Linked DNA regions of Homo sapiens. The protein of the gene in region 1 purifies or fractionates together with the protein of each later gene. This does not show direct contact. Each region holds a gene or a part of one and is shown on either strand. Other genes may lie near its edges.

Evidence for each region.
Region 2: the proteins of N4BP2 (region 1) and NPHP4 purify together in Homo sapiens (co-immunoprecipitation; one large-scale study listed by IntAct). This does not show direct contact.

What each region holds. Positions count from the first base shown.
Region 1 is NC_000004.12:40,115,758-40,119,413, reverse strand, and holds part of N4BP2 (NEDD4-binding protein 2), read right to left. Parts: intron 1,546-3,656; coding exon 1,390-1,545; intron 1-1,389. UniProt on the Homo sapiens protein: Has 5'-polynucleotide kinase and nicking endonuclease activity. May play a role in DNA repair or recombination.
Region 2 is NC_000001.11:5,982,293-5,985,948, forward strand, and holds part of NPHP4 (nephrocystin-4), read right to left. Parts: intron 1-3,656. UniProt on the Homo sapiens protein: Involved in the organization of apical junctions; the function is proposed to implicate a NPHP1-4-8 module. Does not seem to be strictly required for ciliogenesis. Required for building functional cilia.

The sequences.
Region 1 (3,656 bases):
TACTTAATGTTAATTTCAGACTCAGAGCACTTGTGCAAATCATTATACTCTCAACTTTAGTTAATTTTTCTCGATTAAATTTGTCAATGCATTTCCTCTTTTTTTTAACTTCAGGAGTGCTCGAAGTCCCAACTCTCGCAGGATGCCTTCCTAAGTGAAATCATACCTAACGCTGAGTTTTCTATGTGTTAGATGATGCTACTTTAAGTCCCTTGCATGTACTAATTCATAATCCTTATAAGATTTTTATGAGCAGAGTGTTATTACTGGCATTTTAGAAATGAAGAGCTGAAGTACAGAAAGATTTGTAACTTGTCAGAGATGACAAAGCTTTGGGACTTTTTGAACCCAGGAAATATAGCTCAAGAGTCCATGCTCTTAACCACTTTGCAACACTGTTTCTCAATCAAAAAAGCATTTATAAATTTTCTCTTCCCCATTCCCAACTCCTTTTTAACAGAAGCTCTCTATCCCTTACCATCAAAACATATGGATAATTCAGACCTGTGGTTTCTTCTTTACTCTGTCTGTCAGTTAATGCTGTTTTTATTTATTCAATTGTTTATGTGTCTTCGTTGCTAAACAGAATCAGTGCTACCTTGGATTGCAAATTGTCAGAAGGCCATGACTTGTATTACTTGGTAAAAGTGTACTGTTAATAATTTTTATAACACTAGCTTGAAAGAGTATTTTCATTAAAACTTAAGGAAATTAAGAAGTGATTTGAGTGGATACAAAATAATAACAGCGAGAAGATAAGGGAAATACTGGATTAGCAGCGAGCGTCAAGTAAAACTGGCAGGAGAATTCATAGCATAATCACGGACTCACAAAACTCTGAGGACAATAAAAGAACTGTCATGTCATCTCTCATATGAACTTGTACTTCTCTTGATAACTACATATATCCCACCCTAGGTAAGACTATAAGTAAATCCTTAAAAATAACAAAAGTCCACCTTATTTATTTATTTATTTTTTGAAATGGAGTTTTGCTCTTGTTGCCCAGGGTGGAATGCAATGGCGCAATCTCGGCTCACCGCAACCTCAGCTCACCGCAACCTCTGCCTCCAGGGTTCAAGCAATTCTCCTACCTCAGCCTCCCAAGCAGCTGAGATTGCAGGCATGCGCCACCAGCCAGGCTAATTTTGTACTTTTAGTGGAGACGGGTTTCTCCATGTTGGTCAGGCTGGTCTCGAACTCCTGACCTCAGGTGATCCACCTGCCTCGGCCTCCCAAACTGCTGGGATTACAGGTGTGAGCCACCACACCCAGCCAAGTCCACCTTATTTTTAAAGTTTATCAGCAATGATTCCACAAGCTCCAAAATTATACCTTTTAAAAATTATATTTCAAATTGAATTTTGTACATAAGGCATTTTAACCTACCTAGTGCTTCTATCCTCACAAGAATATGCACACAACTCAATACGTTCAATTTTCTCTGGAACCGAAGAACTCATAATTATTGGCACTGAAACAAAACGTTGATAATGTTCCAACATTCTTGTTATTTTTTCTTTGCTTACCCCATGAATGTTACGCCTGAAAATTCCAGGGGAAAAAAGGGTTGAAGGAATATTGATAATTAAGTTTTTAAAAATCAGAACATATGTCTAGGAAAACAATAATATATTTCTAATAGATACGAATATCAAAGCTGCTTTATTGTGACCACAATATATACAATTTGATTCTAATTTTCATTTTATTAAGGATTTCTTAAATTATACACTTAAGTTCAAACAAAGAAAAAAAATTCTAGTATTTGAAGTTTCTAGATGTTCAAATATGAAGTTAGTTGTTTGTGTTTTCACTCATAGTGCCTTTTTCAAAAATGTTTTTTATTATAAGCTCATATTTGGTTGAACTTAATATATGAGAATTCTGAGGCCTTCAACTCGGAGTACTTTCACACAGCATCTAGGTTTATACCTGCCAGGAGGCCAGATGTTATGCTTTAGCCCCTCAAAGGTTTGGTCTTAATGAAAACATCTCAATTGCAACTTTCCTGTCTTGGGTTGAATTCAAGGCTTTGTGACTGGATCCCAGGGATAATATATGCATTTGCCAGTTGGGCAAATCTGGCTTTCATATTTACCTACCTCGATCTTGTCTGGTTTCAGATCACAGAGAAGCAAAGAGATAGAAAATATGAAAGAGAGGTTAAGGGTCATAGGAGCCAGAGCCAAAAGTTCTAGTATACATCTAATCTAAGTCCCGGAAAGAGAAGAGAATGCATGGGACGGAAGCAATGTAAAGAAAAATGCTGAGAATTTTCCAGAACTGATGAAAAACACCAATCCCTTAATTTCAGAAGCCAACAAATGCCAAACAAGATAAAAAAATAAGAAATCCATAACTAGAAACATAGTACTGAAATTGTCATTCACCAAAGACAAAGAGATGATATTAAAAGCAACCAGAAATTTTAAAAAATCATTTTAAAACTAGTTATCTACAAAGAAACAATTAGAATGACAGCTGACTTAACAACAATAATAATGTAAGTCAGAAGGGAGTGAAGTGTTATCTTCAACAACAGAAAATAACTGTCAGTATAGAATATACATATCCAGCAAAAGTATCTTACAAGAATGAGGGCAATAAAAAGATCTGCAGATTTTAAAAAAAGAATTTGACACCAAGCAGACCCTTACTATAAAGAAAATTCTCAAAGATGAACATCAGGCAGAAGGCAATTCCCAGATGAAAGGTATATGATGCAAGAAAAAAATGAAGCAGAAAGCAATAACTAGATGAATAAGTGAAAATAAACACTACCTGTATATTCTGGACAATGAGAGCATGTAAATTGAGAGGGAGGCAAGTGTCAGAATTAAAATGTTTTAAAGTCTTCGTATGCGTGAGGAGGAAAGCCAAGAAAATGGTTTGACTTTAGATTTAAAGTCTGCACAATTTCCAAATTAGTAGAGAAGAAAAAAATTTAATACAAAAATTTGGAAACAATTTTAAAAATTTTAAATAAGGCATGATAGGAAAAAAATCCAACTACATCATTTTCTATAATAGAAGAACAATCACAGAAAAGGCGAGATAAACAAAAAGCACAGAATGAGACAAGATCAATTATATGAATAATTCTAAGAAACAAGATCAATTATATGAATAACCAAAATAACCATAAAAGAACTAAGTTTATCAGTTAAAAGTCAAGGTGGACAGAGTGGATTTCAAAAAATCCAGCCATCATGCTTACAAGAGATACATCGAACATAAAAATATTCAAAGTAAAAGTATGAAAAAAGAAGTAACAAATACTAACTAAAAGGAAGCTGATGTAGGTCTATCAATATTAGACAAATTACACTTTACAACAAAAATCACTACTAAAGACAAAAGAAAATCACTAGAAAATAATAAAAGGTTCAATTAATTAGGGTGATATAAAAATCTTAAGCTTGTATACATTTCAAAAACTACCCTCCAAATATGTAAAGCAAACATAGGCAGAATTATAAGGAGAAACCACAAGTTCAACATAATAAAGGGAGATTTCAACATTCATCTCTCAAATACAGGAGATATGAGTAACAATAAGCATGATTTAATGGATATATTAACACATTGTAATCATGTACATTCTTATCAAGCAAATATGAAATGTATAAAAAATCAACACTTAACTAGGCCAA
Region 2 (3,656 bases), on another chromosome or scaffold:
TTTACTGTTTTTTCTATGTTTGATATACCGTTGTGTTACAATTGCCAATGGTATTCAGTACAGTAATGTGCCATACAGGTTTGTAGCCTAGAAGCAACAGGCTATACCATGGAGCCTAGGTGTGAGGCAGGCTCTACCCTCTAGGTTTACGTAAGTACATCCTATGATGTTTGCACAATGACAAAATCACCTAACACCATTTCTCAGAATGTGTCGGCACTGTCAAGGAACCATGCATAACTGTATTTACCATTTCCTTCCTTCTAGTTACTTTGTATCTAATTTGTTCCTTTATTTAGGTTTGTATCTAATTTGTTCCTTTATTTAGGTTGTTAAGGAGGAAACAGACGTCACTGATTTTATACCTTCTTCTTTTCTAATATAGTCATGTAAAGCTATACATTTCCCTCAAAGAACTGTATTAGTTATATCCTATAAATCTGTATATTTTCTTCCATTACTCAGTTCAAATTATTTTCTAATTTCCCTATTAATTCTTCTTTGATCCAGTATGTTAATTTCCTATTTGAGGATTTTCTAGATCTCATATTATTTATTTCTAACTTAAAAGCACAGTAGTCGATAAACATACTCTATAATTTGGGTCCTTTGAAGCTTATTGGGACATTTTAATGGCCCAGCATACGGTCTATCTTGGTGACTGTTCCATATGAACTTGGGAAGAACGTGTTCTCTAGCTTTGTTGGGAGTGGTGTTTAAGAGATGACAGGGTGATTGATGGTACACTTGGGAAGAATGTGTACTCTAGCTTTCTTGGGAGTAGCGTTAAGAGATGACAAGGTGATTGACGGTATTCTTCAGAGCTTCCAAATCCCTATGAGTGTTCTGATCTATCTGTTTTTTCAATAATTGAGAGAAGAAGAGTTAAAAGTCTCCAACCATGATTATGAATCTGAATATAGTTCCCTTTAGTTCTGTCCAATTTTGCTCTTTTGTACAAAAGAGTTATCAGAACAGACCTTACTGTTATGCTTTGAAAGACCAGCTTAGAAGTCTGCCCTTTTGCTGGAGTCTGGGAACTTAGATTTCAAGAGAGTTCCTACCACCTAACTGGTAAGAGGAGCTCACTGTGCCTAAACTGTTTATGTACTGTGGCTTATGCTAAACACGTGTTTCCCTTCTGAGAGTCTGGAATTTTGGACATGCTACACAACATTTCACGTGTGTTGTTACAATTCATTGCTGGAGGAATCAAACGCATCCTGTGTGACTCAACTGAGAGAGGACTCTTGGAAGCTTGTACCCTCTTCCCTCAGACATCCCCCATATGCCTCCTCCCTTTGCTGATCTTGCTCTGTATCCTTCTGCTGGATCAACCTTAGCTGAGAGTATGACTACATGCTGAGTCATGTGAGTCCTCTTAGAGACTCTTCAAACCTGGGAGGTGGTCTTGGAGGCCCCTAACACAAGTGCATACACATTTAGAGATTGTTACGTTTCCTTGATGATCACTGTCTTTATGAGGTGCCCCTTTATTTCTGGGAATACTCTTCACCTTGAAATCTACTTTTTCTGATACTAGTATAGATGCAAAGCTTTCTTTGCTTAGTATGTACATGGTTTATATTTTTCCACCCTTCTACCTGCAACCTGTTTACGTCTTTATGCTTAGAGTGCACTTTTTTGTAAACAACATGTAATTGGGTTTTAAATAACTTTTAACATACGACTTTGGATCAGGAATTCCACTTCTAGGAATTATTCTACAGACATATCTGTACATGAAAAAAATGAGGTTATTCACTGTAGCAGTGCCTATAATAGCAAATGACTGGGAAAAGTCTAAATGTTCATCAATCACGGCCTCACTCAATAAATGATGGCTCATTCATATAAAGAAACACCTTGCGGTCTTAAGAACAATAAAATTTTCTTCATGTAATAACATGAATGATCGATAAGACATACTGCCTGAATTTTTTTGAAAAGCAAGGTACAGTGCCGGGCATGTGGCTACACCTGTAATCCCAGCACTTTGGGAGGTAGAGGCGGGCAGATCACCTGAGCTCAGGAGTTTGAAACCAGCCTGGCCAACATGGTGAAACCCCGACTCTACCAAAAATACAAAAACTTAGCCGGGCATGGTGGCGCACATCTGTGGTCCCAGCTACTTGGGAGGCTGAGGAAGGAGGATCACTTGAGCTCAGGGGGAGGAGGTTTACAGTGAGCTGAGATCACACCACTGCACTACAGCCTGGGTGACAGAGTGAGACTTCATCTCAAAAAAAAAGAAAGAATGGTACAGAACGGAATACAGGAAGTACCATTTGCATTTTAAAAAGGAAAAATAAATGTAGGTATATTTACTTGTATTTGCTTAGAATTTAAGAAAGTTGTACGAAAACACACTGTATCTAGGGTGATACACCAGGTGCCTGGGGATGCCATGGGATGATTCACTTTTCCTCTGCATCCTTGTCAACTTTGAACTACGTGCATTACCTTTTCACAAATAAAAATAAAATGAAATGGGGAAATAAAATTTCCTTTGCAAAACTCCTAGGAAAGAGGGAAGGGCTATCAACTATCCTGTGAGCTTCTGGAAGGCGGCTGAGCCAGACCAGGAGGGTGGCATCCCAGCTAAAGCCGTCGCCCTGGGCAGCTGGCTTCACTCTTAATTAGCAGGTGCTGCTGCTCGTCTATAAAACGGGAGTAAGGTGGTGGCAGCCTCATAGAGCTGCTCTGAGGATTAAGTGAATGAACACAGTGAAGTGCTAGAAGTAAAGCTACAAAAGCAGCAGCCACCACAGTACCTACCACAGTGGCAAAGACACAGCAGGTGCTCAATCCAAGGGCTTGGAATTGAACGATATAGAACATCAGTGATTTAATAATAGTAAATTAGTCACAGACCCGGGGCTCCAACAACTGAATATATGTGAATATCACTCTCCCAGCTGCAGAGGAAAACGGCCTTGCCAAGCCAAATCCTGTAAAAAGGGTTGACAATGGCAAGACTGATCCTTCTCACGCATTCCCACCGGCCACTGGGCCTCACGAGGACAATCCAATCGTGTGGGTGTCCCGTGGGCAGCAGCACAGAAGCACCAGCTTGTCCAGCAGGTTCCCCGCCAGCTGAAGGGCACAGATGGATGTGCCGCCATCAGGGCCTGGGCCTGAGTGTGCCCAAGGCCGTGGTACATCCAGCCACGCACAGAGCTGCCAGAATGCCCGTAGCTCAGCCCCTGCAGTCCTCACTGCCAGGCTGAAAGCGGGCCATGCTGAGCCATGCACAAGGCCACCTGGCTCACAAATAACCCAGGAAATCAGAGTACTTGGGTTTTTAAATTGCTCCACTGTGGGCAGAAAGAAACCCTACCCAGAGTCAAAAGTGCTGACCATGTCATTGAATCATAGATTCTCTTTGCTGATGGGCCACTTTGCATCCGAATACTGCCAAGGCCCAAGGTAATGGGTATGGTGGTATAAGACTCAAACGAGTAAGTGAAAATCAATACAGATGCTCTTTGACCTATGATGGGACTCTATCCTGTTTAAGTTGAAAATGTCATAAGTTCAAATGCATTTAATACCCTTAACCTACTGTACATCAGAGCTTAGCGTGGCCCAGCTTCAACATGGTCAGAACACTTGCATGTTCCTACAACTGGGCAAAGTCATCTAACACAAATCCT